Linked DNA regions of Homo sapiens. The protein of the gene in region 1 interacts with the protein of each later gene in a biochemical or structural test. Each region holds a gene or a part of one and is shown on either strand. Other genes may lie near its edges.

Region 1 (6,908 bases):
GAATTGCTTTAACCTGGGAAGCGGAGGTTGCGGTGAGCTGACATCGTGCCACTGTACTCCAGCCTGGTGACACAGCGAGACTCCGTTTCAAAAAAAAAAGATATTTTGAGAGAGAACACATTCACGTAACTTTCAGTATACTGGCATAATTGTTCTATATTACTATTGTTATTAATCACATATGCATAATTTATAAGTTAAACCATATCAGAAATAGTATATATAGGAGGAAAAAAAAGCAGTTTCAGGCATCCATTGGGGCGGGGGGGTCTTAGAATGTATCCCCTAGGAATAAGGTGAGACTGCTGTACTATTTTCACCGTTTCAAGCTGTTTCTCTCGGTAGAAGGATGGATTTGAACATAAGAAAAGTTCAGGACTTCCCTTAAGGAAGCTCCAAGCAAGGCTTCCAAAGGAGGTTACTGTTCAACTGGGCAGAGAAGGCCACTAAGCAGCAGAGAGGACTGGCTAAAAGAGAAGGTAAATGAGACAGAGGGACTATTCCTCTCCTCACATCCTTGGTCTCCCCAACTTCCGTCTCTGCCATCTACTTGCCTAGTCGATCCATAGCCTTCTCAGTCTCTCTCTCCTGACTGGAGTGGTCAGCTGTAGCAAAGCCAGCCTGCAGGAAGAAGAAATGATTACCAAGGACTTGGGTATCTGGGGTATGCCCAGTATTCAGCTATTGCATCTCAACCCCACCCACTCTTCCATACTCCCCTTGGTGATGCAGGGCTGGGACTCTGCCACCCACATTTCTACTTTGCCCTGTTAAACTGAGCAAGGCTGGAGGGAGATGGGCCTTGTTCCTTCCTATTCATGTAGGCATCACCTCATGACACTTCACCGTGGCAGCAGGAATGCCTTCCTATAGTGGCCACAGAATCCAGTATACAGTTCTGCGAACTCTTGCAGAGCCAGTCTTATCACTGCACCTTCTCTTTAGAGGTCTGGGTCTCAGGACTCTCCTCCAAGCTCAGAGACCCCCTACCATCAGCTGGGGCAGTGCCTTCTCCTTAAAGGTTGGAATTTCAGCTCTGCAGAGCCTTTTCCCTAAGCTTTTAAATTTTAATCAACTTCATCTCTTTGTTCCTTCAGCCATAGGTTGGTAGCTGTTCCCTGCGGTTGCCACCCCCAGGTACACGTTTTACCTTTTCAGTTACTTAACAACTTTATAGCTAGTAAACAACTCTATCAAATTCTCTGTTTCCTCACCAACACACTGAGGTGGGGGAAGCTTTATAATTCCTCTGCAATGCTGAGCACTGAAGGCAGTATTTCTAATCTAACTGAAAATCTTCCCGCACAGCCAACCAAATGCTTCTCTGCTCCCATCACTCAGAAGTTCCTGAAACCCTATGACCTCCAAGACCTCTTTCTAATGAATCACGAAATGTTCCCTGCCTGCATAAAAGACCTGATTTTGATCCCAGCTCTGCCATCCATTCAGAGTGTGACCTTGAACACATCACTTCAATTACTGTGCCTGAGTTTTCTTCTCCAGAAATTAGGGGTGACTGTTCTGACCCTGCAGGGGACTTATGATTAGACACCATTTATGAAAACACCTGGCATGTGGCAAGAATGTAACATTTCTTGAATTTAAATTCATCTTTTCTGCTACATCTAAACTGTACTCGGCACCTGCTCCAATCAGCATTCATTATCTAGTCATGTCTGGGTTTAATAATTCAGTTCCACTCCCTGTAGTTAGTGACAACCTCTGGTCACTGCCGCCCAAGGAGAAGTCAGACCTCTCACCTAAACCACTGCCACGGCCTCCTAACCACCTTCCCATCCAGCCATCTGGCCCAGCCTTACAGAATTAATCACTACTCTGCTCAAAACCTTCAACAGCCCTCCACTGAGAGAGCACAAAATTAGCCATGGCATTCGCACGTCCCCTCTTCTCCCACTCCCATCAACCTGTTGAGCATAGTTCTCTGCATGCTCTGAGACCCAACTCCAGGCCATGTGCCCTGCACTTTCTCATCTCCACGCCTCTGCAGACACCACCAGCCTCTCACCTTGATCCTTTCCTGCTATGCCCTGACAAAATTAGTCCCATTCTATTCTGCACTCCAAAGTAATTTTCTTTGTAAGTGTCGCTGCATTTTTCATATCTTACTTTGGCTAAGTACCATCTTTGAGGCATCATTCATCCAGTCGGTATGTCTATCTCCTGTGCCAGGCACTATGCTAGGCTGTGCAAACAGCCCTAACAGAGGGTTCCTACCTTCAAGCCGCTCAGCACCTAGCCGGTACAGACTGTAAACAAGGACAGGTAAGAACTGTAATAACGGTCTGTAACGTTCTCGGGAAAACCAGGAGCTGTCTAGCTTACATGAAAACAAGTTTCTGGAAACCCTGCGTCAAACAGGGCCTTTCTGGTTTCAGTAAGGAGAAGGGGGAGCGCGCATGTGACATCTGGGGCTCAGGGTTAGCTGGCATCCCCACCAACGGACAGAGGTCCACAGGTCTGTAAAGTCAAGTCCCTCTCCTCGCCGCCCTCACCTGGCCCTCGCCCAGGCTCCTGGCAGCGGGCCCCGGCTCTCGGTCACCAGCGTCACCTCCCATTTACCAAATCCGCAGCGGCGCCCAGCGGGCGGACAGCCGTCTCTGCTGACCCAGAGCGCCCACCCACGCCCTCGGCTTTCCCCGCCCCGCAGCCCCGCGGCCCCGCGGCCTGGCCGTTTTCAGCTCGAGCGCGAGCCCAAACAGCGCTCCGTGTCGCGGGGCGGCCCGAGGCCGGCCAGAGGCGCTTCCCCGGCCCCGCGGCCCCCGCCCAGCCCGGCCCCGCGACTTCCCGCCCCAGGCTGCGGCTGGCTGTTGCTCCTGGCCCCCACGCGGCGCTCACCTCCGGGCTGGGGGGCGCCCCCCGCGCGCTAGGCAGCGGCGGGCCCCGAGACGGCTCCGCGGCCCCCTGCGCCTGGGCCCCGGCGGCCTGAAGGTCCATGCCCTGCGGCCCGCGGCTGGTCGCCCTGGACGCCGTGGGCCACGTGACGCGCCGGCCCGGCTGCCCGCCCGAGGATCCGCCGCAGAAGCGCCAATCAGCCTGGGGAGGGGGTGGGTACCGGCCAAGAGGGCGGGGCGCGGGGGTGTCACGAGCAAGCGGGGGCGGGGCGGCGCAGGGGGCGGGGCGCGCGGCCTCGCGGAGCCCGCCCCTCCCTCCCAGCGCGAAATCTGAAACAATCTCGGAGACGGATTTTGGAAACTCCTCTCGGTGCATATCCTAAGGCTGCACGACTAGCTGCGTGTGAAACGCCAAGCGTACCCTACTCGGCCACTCGGGGTGTGCTCCAGCTTCAAAACCCCGCGTGGGTAAGACACATGAGCAACCCAGTGACCTCCACCTTGAGCTAATGATCGTCTTTGAAGTTAATCCATTAGAAACCAAGATAGATGATTAAGACACAAACTGCAATATGCAGTGGACACAGAATACAGGCCACGACGCTTACTCATAATAATCCTGAACATTCGGGATTCCTGTATTTCCATGCTCAACGCCTGATACCGACAACCTAATTATTTCCCATTTTGCCTCGAAAGGTGGCTTCTGGGGATAGGCAGGGCCTGAGCTGGGAACAGCCCAACTGGAAAGACAGCCTTCCCTGCCTTCCCCACAGTGCCTAACCTCTAATAACAAACCAGCTCAAGGTGTGCTAATCACGTCAACATCAGGACATGAGACCCTCTTCCTTCATCCCCCTCAAAGACTGTGTTGTTTGTACAACACAAAAGGCATTTGAAAAAATTTAGCATAAAACTGACACACAATATTCGATATTATTTTTGTTCTATATGTAGATGTTCCTACACAGGAGTCAGTATCCCCAAGGCTAACTGCCTCTAGGTCAGCAATGTCCAATAGAACGTTCTTTAATGGTGGAAGTGGAAATGAAAGTTCTACTATCTGTACTGTCCAATATAGTAACCATATACCTACTGAGCACTTGAAATGTGGCCAATGTGAATAAATTGAATAATTCTAATAAATTTAAATTGCTACATGTGCCTTGGAGCTACTGTTTCTAACAGTGCAACTCTAGGTGTACTAGCTAGATGTGTTTTCATAACCTGCAATATTGAGAATCAGATACAGGGATGTGATGACCCCAGGTGACCACCCTTATAGCCTTGTGTTAAGGAGACTACCACTATCCTCTTTGCTCCCTAATCTACATATCTCTTTCGTAAAATTAAAGTGCCAAATAAGATTAAGAATGTTAAACATCCCAGGACTTAAGGGACAGGAAAAAGAGGAATTTTTTTCTTATTTTAAAACAAATGACAAGAAAACAGGGGCTGGCCGCGGTGGCTCACTCCTGTAATTCCAGCACTTTGGGAGGCCGAGGCAGGCAGATCACTTGAGGTCAGTTCAAGGCTATCCTGGCCAACATGGTGAAACCCCATCTCTACTAAAAATACAAAAATTAGCCAGGCGTGGTGGCACACACCCATAATCCCAGCTACTCGGGAGGCTGAGGCAGGAGAATCACTTGAGCCCGGGAGGTGGAGGGTGCAGTGAGCAGAGATTGCCCCACAGCACTCCAGCCTGGGCGACAGAGTGAGACTTGGTCTAAAAAAAAAAAAAACCAGAAAGAAAAAGAAAACAGTACAAAAGCTTAAAATAAAAATGTTCTAAAGTAGACTCTAATACTCATAGAAATTTAATATATAATAAAGGTAACATCACAAATCAGCAGAGAGAAACATAACTGCCCAAATAGTGTTGGCAAAATTAACTGCTTGGGGAAAAAGAGTTGTTCTCAGCACCAGGAAGAGCTTCCAAAGCATTTTAAAAACAGACATCACACATACACACACAAAATACCTCTGGGCATCAAAAATCGCCACAAAAGGTGCCTATAATCCCAGCTACTTGGGAGGCTTTGGCAGGGAGAACTGTTTGAACCTAGGAGGCAGAGGTTGCAGTAAGACCACACCACTGCACTCCAGCCTGGACCACAGAGCAAGACTCTGTCTCAAAAAAAAAAAATCACCACAAACAAGGCTGGGGGTAAAATTATTTGCAACAAATGAGAAACAAGATATTAATATTCTGAATATGTTTTTAAAAACTCTGGCCAGGCACAATGGCTCATGCCTATAATACCAGCACTTTGGGAGGTTGAGGTAGGAGGATTGTTTGAGCCCAACTGTTTAAGAGACCAGCCCTGGCAACATAGCAAGACCAGTCTCTACAAAAAAAAATTTAAATTAACCAGGCATGGTGGTGTGCACCTGCAGTCCCAGCTACTCAAGAGGCTGAGGTGGGAGGATCTCTTGAGCCCAGAAGTTAAGGCTGTAGTGAGCCATGATCACACCACTGCACTCTAGCCTAGGTGACAAAGCAAGAACTTGTCCAATTTAAAAAAAAAAATTAACTCATAAATTAGTAAGAAAAAAAATTTTTAAATAGTCTAAGGATGTAAAAAGATGAGAAACATAAAATACACTAACTTCACTAATATCAAAGTATGGTAAAACAATGACATATCACATTTCACCTATAAAATGGTAAAAATAAAAGATATAATTACACCAGTACAGGTAAGGGTACTGACACTTTCATGTATTGCTTGAAAGAAGGAGCAAACCAGCAATACATATCAGTATTCTCTAAAAGCAGTATCCTTTGATCCAGTAATTCCACTGTCGGATGTCAATCTCCTAAGGAAATGGCCAGGGATGTGAACAAAGATTGACAAGAATCTTCATCAACAGCATTTATCTAATTTTTAAAAAAATTAGAAATGACAGTCCAGGCCAGGCTTAGTGGTTCACGCCTGTAATCCCAACACTTTGGGAGGCCAAGGCGGGTGGATCATGAGGTCAGGAGTTCGCAACCAGCCTGGCCAATATGATGAAACCCCCGCACTACTAAAAATACAAAAATTGGCTGGGCGCGGTGGCGGGTGCCTGTAATCCCACCCAGCTGCTCGGGAGGCTGAGCCAGAACCACTTGAACCCGGGAGGTGGAGGTTGCAGTGAGCCGAGATGGAGCCACTGCACTCCAGCCTGGATGACAGAGCAAGGCTCCATCTCAAAAAAAAAAAGACAGTCTAACCAGAGGATTAGTAAAATATATTATGGCTCATTTTTACAATGTAATGTTACGAATTCATTAAATGTTTTTAAGGCTATTTAATGACACAGAAAAACAATACTAAGTGAAACGTAACAATAAGCTACACTGAAAGCTTCTCCCAGTGACAGGATGCTTTTTTTTACCACACTATTCTATTTCCTCCATATTTTCCAGAACAAATGCATACCACGTATCTTTTATAATGAGAATAAACCAACAAAACTGTACTTTCTCCTTTTTTTTTTTCCTTGAGAAGGAGTTTCGCTCTTCTTACCCAGGATGGAGTAGCAATGGCATGATCTCGGCTCACTGCAACCTCCGTCTCCCAGGTTCAAGCAATTCTCCTGCCTCAGCCTCCCAAGCAGCTGGGATTACAGGCACCCACCACCACACCTGGCTAATTTTTGTATTTTTAGTAGAGACGGGGTTTCACCATGTTGGCCAGGCTAGTCTCAAACTCCTGACCTCAGGTGATCCGCCTGCCTCAGCCTTCCCAAAGTGCTGGGATTACAGGCGTTGAGTCACCATGCCTGGCCACTTTCTCCTTCATTTTAACTGGCTCTTAGGTCGAGATTAGAGATACTCATGCTTGACCTGGGATAATTTTAAAAAAACCCAGTCGTATGCTATCCATGTATTTTGGGAAACATTTAGGACCTGTGGAAGATCGGGCCTCAACATTAAATCAGCAATTCTCTTTACTGGAATCAGATTAGCACATCAAACTGAGCAGTGTCATGCACCTATAATCCCAGCTACTCAGGAGTCTGAGGTGAGAAGGTCACTTGAGTCCAGGAGTTCAAGACCAGCCAGGG
Region 2 (6,382 bases), on another chromosome or scaffold:
CTGTCTCAGACTGGCTTTCTCTTAAAGAAGTAAACAGATTTTGCGCAAAGGAGCAAGGAAGGGTTTCTTGCCTGGCAGTGGTTGACAGTTTTTCTTTTGCCTCATGTAGCTCTTGAAATTGGGGCTGACCTCCCATCTAATCATGTCATTGATCGCTGGCTTGGGGAGCCCATCAAAGCAGCCATTCTCCCCACTAGCATTTTCCTGACCAATAAGAAGGGATTTCCTGTTCTTTCTAAGATGCACCAGAGGCTCATCTTCCGGCTCCTCAAGGTGAGTGGTAGGAGGGTTCTAAAGGTAGTCCAGCTATACATCTTGCCTTATTTACCTGTGTATGATCGTTTTTTCCTGTGAGGCTGACTCTTTTTCTTTGGTTTCTGGGGAGCAATTTCAGTGAAGTTGGGAATCTTGAGAACAAAAAGGTAAATGCCAGTAGTAGCCCTAGAAACCTTTCAAAACAAACCAAACCTCATGAGAACTTTGCAGAAGGTTTCATTTAGGAAGTTACAGCAAGGATCCATGAGGCTGTTTGGGTGTTGATACTTTCATGGCATAAGAGGGCTTTTTCTTTTTTCTTTTTTTTTTTGAGACAGGGTCTCACTCTGTTACCCAGACTGGAGTGCAGCCATACCATCTCAGCTCACCAGAACCTCTGCCTCCCAGGCTTAAGCGATTCTTCTGCTTTAGCCTCCTGAGTAGCTGGGATTATAGGAATGCACCACTACTGCCCGGCTAATTTTTGTATTTTCAGTAGAGACAGGTTTTATCATGTTGGCCAGGCTGGTCTTGAACGCCTGACCTCAAATGATCCACCCGCCTCGGCCTTCCAAAGTATTGGGATTACAGGCGTGGGCCACCACGCCCGGCCAAGGGGGCTTTTTATAAGTTTACTGAAGCCTCATGCTGCCTTTGTTGGTATTGGGACAGACGCTAGAGAACTGTTGGTCTGGGCCAGGTGCAGTGGCTCGCGCCTGTAATCCCAGGACTTTGGGAGGCTGAGGCGGATGGATCATCTGAGGTCAGGAGTTTGAGACCAGCCTGTCCAACATGGTGAAACCCCGTCTCTACTAAAAATACAAAAATTAGCCAAGCATGGTGGCACGCACCTGTAGTCCCAGCTACTTGGGAGGCTGAGGCAGGAGAATTGCTTGAACCTGGGAGGTGGAGGTTGCAAGTGAGCCAAGATCACGCCATTGCACTCCAGCCTGGGCAATAGAGCGAGACTCCATCTTTTTTTTTAAAAAAAAAAAAAAAGAGAACTGTTGATCTGGGCCTTATTTTACACTAGGGCTCTTTGGCCATATACCATAATATTCCAGAATCTTGGTTTGAGGGCTGTGTCTGATGGTCTGACTTTTCTCACAGTTGGAGGTGCAGTTCATCATCACAGGCACCAACCACCACTCAGAGAAGGAGTTCTGCTCCTACCTCCAATACCTGGAATACTTAAGCCAGAACCGTCCTCCACCTAATGCCTATGAACTCTTTGCCAAGGGCTATGAAGACTATCTGCAGTCCCCGCTTCAGGTGGGTCTGGAGTGCACTTAGAGGAGGAAGGTGGGATGGAAAATGTTTCTTGAGAATATATGCCTCCAAATCTTACTAAAACTCAGAAAGCAGTGGAAAGTTTTTGATATTTTAGTGCATTGTCCTTTGCCAGAAACTGGCTAACTTTGTCCTTTTCCTCATTCATCAGCCACTGATGGACAATCTGGAATCTCAGACATATGAAGTGTTTGAAAAGGACCCCATCAAATACTCTCAGTACCAGCAGGTACTGTGTGGTGCCCAGGGTGAGGAAAGCACAGGGCCAGCATGACCTGGGGAGGATGGGATTACAACCATGGGATATTCTCTCCTCCCTCCAGGCCATCTATAAATGTCTGCTAGACCGAGTACCAGAAGAGGAGAAGGATACCAATGTCCAGTGAGTGCTTTCCCCTCAATCTCAGGGACTTGCATACCTATATCTGTATATGCCAAGTCTGCTTGACTCTTCCCTTTCTTTCTTAGGGTACTGATGGTGCTGGGAGCAGGACGGGGACCCCTGGTGAACGCTTCCCTGCGGGCAGCCAAGCAGGCCGACCGGCGGATAAAGCTGTATGCTGTGGAGAAAAACCCAAATGCCGTGGTGACGTGAGTAGCAACCTGCTTGCTGGGAAGTTAGTCCTCATTGCCAAATTTCCTTAACATCTCTCCTTACCTTATTGTCTCTGTTTCAGGCTAGAGAACTGGCAGTTTGAAGAATGGGGAAGCCAAGTGACCGTAGTCTCATCAGACATGAGGGAATGGGTGGCTCCAGAGAAAGCAGACATCATTGTCAGTGAGCTTCTGGGCTCATTTGCTGACAATGAATTGTCGCCTGAGTGCCTGGATGGAGCCCAGCACTTCCTAAAAGGTGCCCCCAGGTTGGGGTGTAGGTGGAGGGTGATGATGGGTGAGACAGCAACCTGGGAGGAGGGTACAGGGTTTAGGGGAAAGTGGGTTGGACCTGGGTCACATCATATGAGTTTGAGAGCCACTGCTTCACTGCCTCTGTGCCCCTAGCAAATGAAGTCATCTCTCCAAACCTTAGTGTTCATATTTGTAAAATGAAGGGAGTGGGCTGGGCGCGGTGGCTCATGCCTGTAATTGCAGCACTTTGGGAGGCCAAGGCGGGAGGTCAGGAGTTTGAGACCAGCCTGGGCAACATGGCGAAACCCCATCACTACTAAAAATACAAAAATTAGCCAGGCGTGGCGGTGCACGCCTGTAATCCCAGCTACTCGGGAGGCTGAGGCGCGAGAATCACTTGAACCTGGGAGGAGAAGGTTGCAGTGAGCTGAGATTGTGCCACTGCACTCCAGCCTGGGCAACAGAGCGAGACTCCATCTCAAATAAATAAATAAATAAATAAATAAATAAATAAATATGACATATGTACCCTGAGCTTAGCTTTCATCAGGAACTTTTGTGGGACTTTGTGACCCCACAAAAGTTAAGAACCACCAGATTAGACTATCTTGGGTTCTTTCAGTTTTAATCTGTGTGACTCTGTAAATTAACCTAGTAGTGGAATCCTCCATGACAGTAGTTGGAAGCAGGCTGGCTTAGTAATGTGACAACATGCATTTGTCTCTTTCTTCCATGCCCATGCCAACGTTGGTTGGTTTTGACATGGGAGGTTTGATCCTTCTGATCCTTCAGTTAGTACAGACATACCATTTCCCTCCCTCTGGAACTAATTTGACTCTCCTGCTGTGCAGATGATGGTGTGAGCATCCCCGGGGAGTACACTTCCTTTCTGGCTCCCATCTCTTCCTCCAAGCTGTACAATGAGGTCCGAGCCTGTAGGGAGAAGGACCGTGACCCTGAGGTAAAGAACCACTCTCTCTGGAAAGAAGTGGTACTCTTTAGTCCTCTTCTTTTTCTGTATTTGCATCAGCTATTTTCTTCTGCTGGGGATGAAGAGGTGAAGGAGAAGTTAGGGATTGGGGAAGCACTAAAGTAAAACTTTTTTTAATCCTTGGGGAAGTAGTTCTCTCTTGTGTGTCTTCCCCAACACTCTCTCTCTCTTTCTGTCTCTGACAGGCCCAGTTTGAGATGCCTTATGTGGTACGGCTGCACAACTTCCACCAGCTCTCTGCACCCCAGCCCTGTTTCACCTTCAGCCATCCCAACAGAGGTAGGTTCTTTTATGGCTGTCCTCTGACTAGAGGGGTACGGGCTTCTTCCTTCCTCCTGCTTTCTTCCCTTACTGTCCCTAGTCTGCCTTATCTACTCTTCCTTTCCTGGGTCTTGCTCATGCTTTATCAAGTTGTCTAGAGCTTCTGGCCCCTTGTCACCCACATAATTATTTCCTGACAGATCCTATGATTGACAACAACCGCTATTGCACCTTGGAATTTCCTGTGGAGGTGAACACAGTACTACATGGCTTTGCCGGCTACTTTGAGACTGTGCTTTATCAGGACATCACTCTGAGTGAGTGTCTATGGCAGTAGATGGCAGAGTATGAGGGTGTGCTTCCTGGGCAGCTTATATGTACATGTGTCATTTAGATTTATGGGGGGCCCAGTGCTCAATGAATGGAGATCTTTGTGTGATTAGAGAAGAGACCCTCTTCAGCATAGGCAAAAGTCACAGCCATGGAGACCTCTGTTTTTTCATTATTTTGTCCACACAGGTATCCGTCCAGAGACTCACTCTCCTGGGATGTTCTCATGGTTTCCCATCCTCTTCCCTATTAAGGTAGGAACTGCTTTTAAGACTCTCTAGTTAAGCAGTAACCTTTGCCTTTGGTGTTGTGCTTCTTTCCTTCTCCCAGGAAGATAGTTGACTATGACTCATGTTCTCCTGATTTCATATGCTCTTGGATCCCAGTGGTAGGTGTTGGGAGTATTTGGAGTGGCCTTCTGCCTGGCTTTCCCGCATCTACTCTGGCTACTCTTCTGTCTGTTCTCTACTTTGAGCAAGAGTCATCTTTTAAAAACTCAAATTTGATCTTATCTCTCTTGCTGTCTTTTTTTTTTTTTTTTTTTTAAAGAGACGGAGTCTCACTCTGTCGCCCAGGCTGGAGTGCAGTGGCACAATTTCGGCTCACTGCAAGCTCCGCCTCCCGGGTTCATGCCATTCTCCTGCCTCAGCCTCCCTGAGGCTGAGATTACAGGTGCCAGCCACCACACCCGGCTAATTCTTGTATTTTTAGTAGAGACGGGGTTTTACCGTGTTAGCCAGGATGGTCTCGATCTCCTGACCTCATGATCCGCCCACCTCAGCCTCCCAAAGTGCTGGGATTACAGGCGTGAGCCACCGCGCCTGGCCTGATCTTATCTCTCTTTTTTGCTTAAAACTCTTCAATGCCTTCCCATTGTCTTTAGGATAAAAGTCAAAATCTGGGACATTGCTTGTAAGACTTGATGTGATCGAGTGTTTGCTTGCCTTTGCAGCTACTGTCCCCTTGCTTACACTGCTTCAGCCTTATGGACCTTCTTTTTGTTCTAATTGTCTATCTTCTTTCCTACCTCAGGCTTTCATGCCTTTCTCTTGCCTGTAGAGTTCTTTGCTTGTCTCTTCACACAGTTAACCTATCTTCTAGGTCTTCTTTAAACATTTTTATTGTGAGATAAACTTTCTCTGATCTCCTAGACTAGGTTAGTGTTCCCTTTCATAGGTGTTTTTCTGACTCTGTACATGTTCACAGCTCTCACCACACCTTTGATTATTTGTGTTCTGATAGGCTTCAAATAACTTTCATGAGGGTTGGGACAGTCTTGTCATGTTTATCATTTTATCTCCACACCTACCTTAATACATTGCCATGTATAATTCATAGCTTCACCCTGAACCTTCCTGTCTTTCTTCTTACAGCAGCCCATAACGGTACGTGAAGGCCAAACCATCTGTGTGCGTTTCTGGCGATGCAGCAATTCCAAGAAGGTGTGGTATGAGTGGGCTGTGACAGCACCAGTCTGTTCTGCTATTCATAACCCCACAGGCCGCTCATATACCATTGGCCTCTAGCCCTGCGTGCCAAGTGTCCAGAGCCTTGGAAGCAGCTTCAGGTTCTGCTCCTGTAGTACAGAAGGTGCAGTACATCTATGGGCTGTGATTCCCCTTGCCCATCAGAGAGGAGCATTTCAATCTGCTTTCCTGCCTTACATCAAGGTGGGCAAGGGATTATAATTAATTGCAGGGCTCAAGCCACCAATCTATGAAGACCTCAGGCCAGGGGGTGAGGAATTAGTGCTGGATTTGAAGCTACGCACTCAGCCTCAAGAACTCCCTGGAATATCCCTGAGAACATGGGGTTTGAACGGATTTTCAGCCTTTTTCTGTTCTTGTTTTGATGGTTTTGTGTAAGAGGAAATACAAATAAAGTTATAGCCCTTTACTGCACGACCATGCTGCCCCCTGCCACTATTTTCCCACACCTCACTTAGACCCAGGCATGTTCAGATCTGTCCTCTTAGCCTATCCAAGACCCAAAGGGGCCTAGTTGTATTCCCTACTTAGGAAGCTGAGCAATGACTATTGTAGTCCTGGATATAGGCCTTTCTGACCAGCTACAGTGAGCTCTTGTCCATTAGAACCTACAGTTAGGCTTTTCTCTGGGGAGGAGGCATAGAGTTTGCCACCTTGGAAAAAGATGGAATAGTGAGTGAAGCCAGTTTCTCTTCTGTATTCTTGAGCTACTGCACGGGCAACTGGTTACCTCTCCTTTGTTACCTCTTGGGAAGACTGGAATCCATCCAGGAATCTCCAGCAAGAAGCTACCTGTTTTTTTTGAATAAAACCACAGGGTTACAGTTTGAAGTCCTAAGAGATCATCTAGTCCAATTTTCCATTTTACAGAGGGGGAGTTTGAAATGGGTACAATGATGTGATATTAGTATCCAAGTCA

The links.
Region 2: the proteins of COPRS (region 1) and PRMT5 form a complex in vitro, tested with the Homo sapiens proteins (3 studies listed by BioGRID, with this or other methods).

Annotation. Positions count from the first base shown.
Region 1 is NC_000017.11:31,856,245-31,863,152, forward strand, and holds the start of COPRS (coordinator of PRMT5 and differentiation stimulator), read right to left. Parts: upstream 3,001-6,908; 5' UTR 2,956-3,000; coding exon 2,857-2,955; intron 2,719-2,856; exon of another isoform or gene 2,577-2,718; coding exon of another isoform or gene 2,514-2,576; intron 622-2,513; coding exon 555-621; intron 1-554. UniProt on the Homo sapiens protein: Histone-binding protein required for histone H4 methyltransferase activity of PRMT5.
Region 2 is NC_000014.9:22,920,024-22,926,405, reverse strand, and holds the end of PRMT5 (protein arginine N-methyltransferase 5), read left to right. Parts: intron 1-109; coding exon 110-273; intron 274-1,365; coding exon 1,366-1,527; intron 1,528-1,696; coding exon 1,697-1,774; intron 1,775-1,868; coding exon 1,869-1,927; intron 1,928-1,964; exon of another isoform or gene 1,965-2,013; coding exon 2,014-2,136; intron 2,137-2,222; coding exon 2,223-2,398; intron 2,399-2,998; exon of another isoform or gene 2,999-3,245; coding exon 3,246-3,355; exon of another isoform or gene 3,356-3,437; intron 3,438-3,570; coding exon 3,571-3,664; intron 3,665-3,846; coding exon 3,847-3,963; intron 3,964-4,165; coding exon 4,166-4,230; intron 4,231-5,285; exon of another isoform or gene 5,286-5,349; coding exon 5,350-5,502; 3' UTR 5,503-5,877; downstream 5,878-6,382. UniProt on the Homo sapiens protein: Arginine methyltransferase that can both catalyze the formation of omega-N monomethylarginine (MMA) and symmetrical dimethylarginine (sDMA), with a preference for the formation of MMA.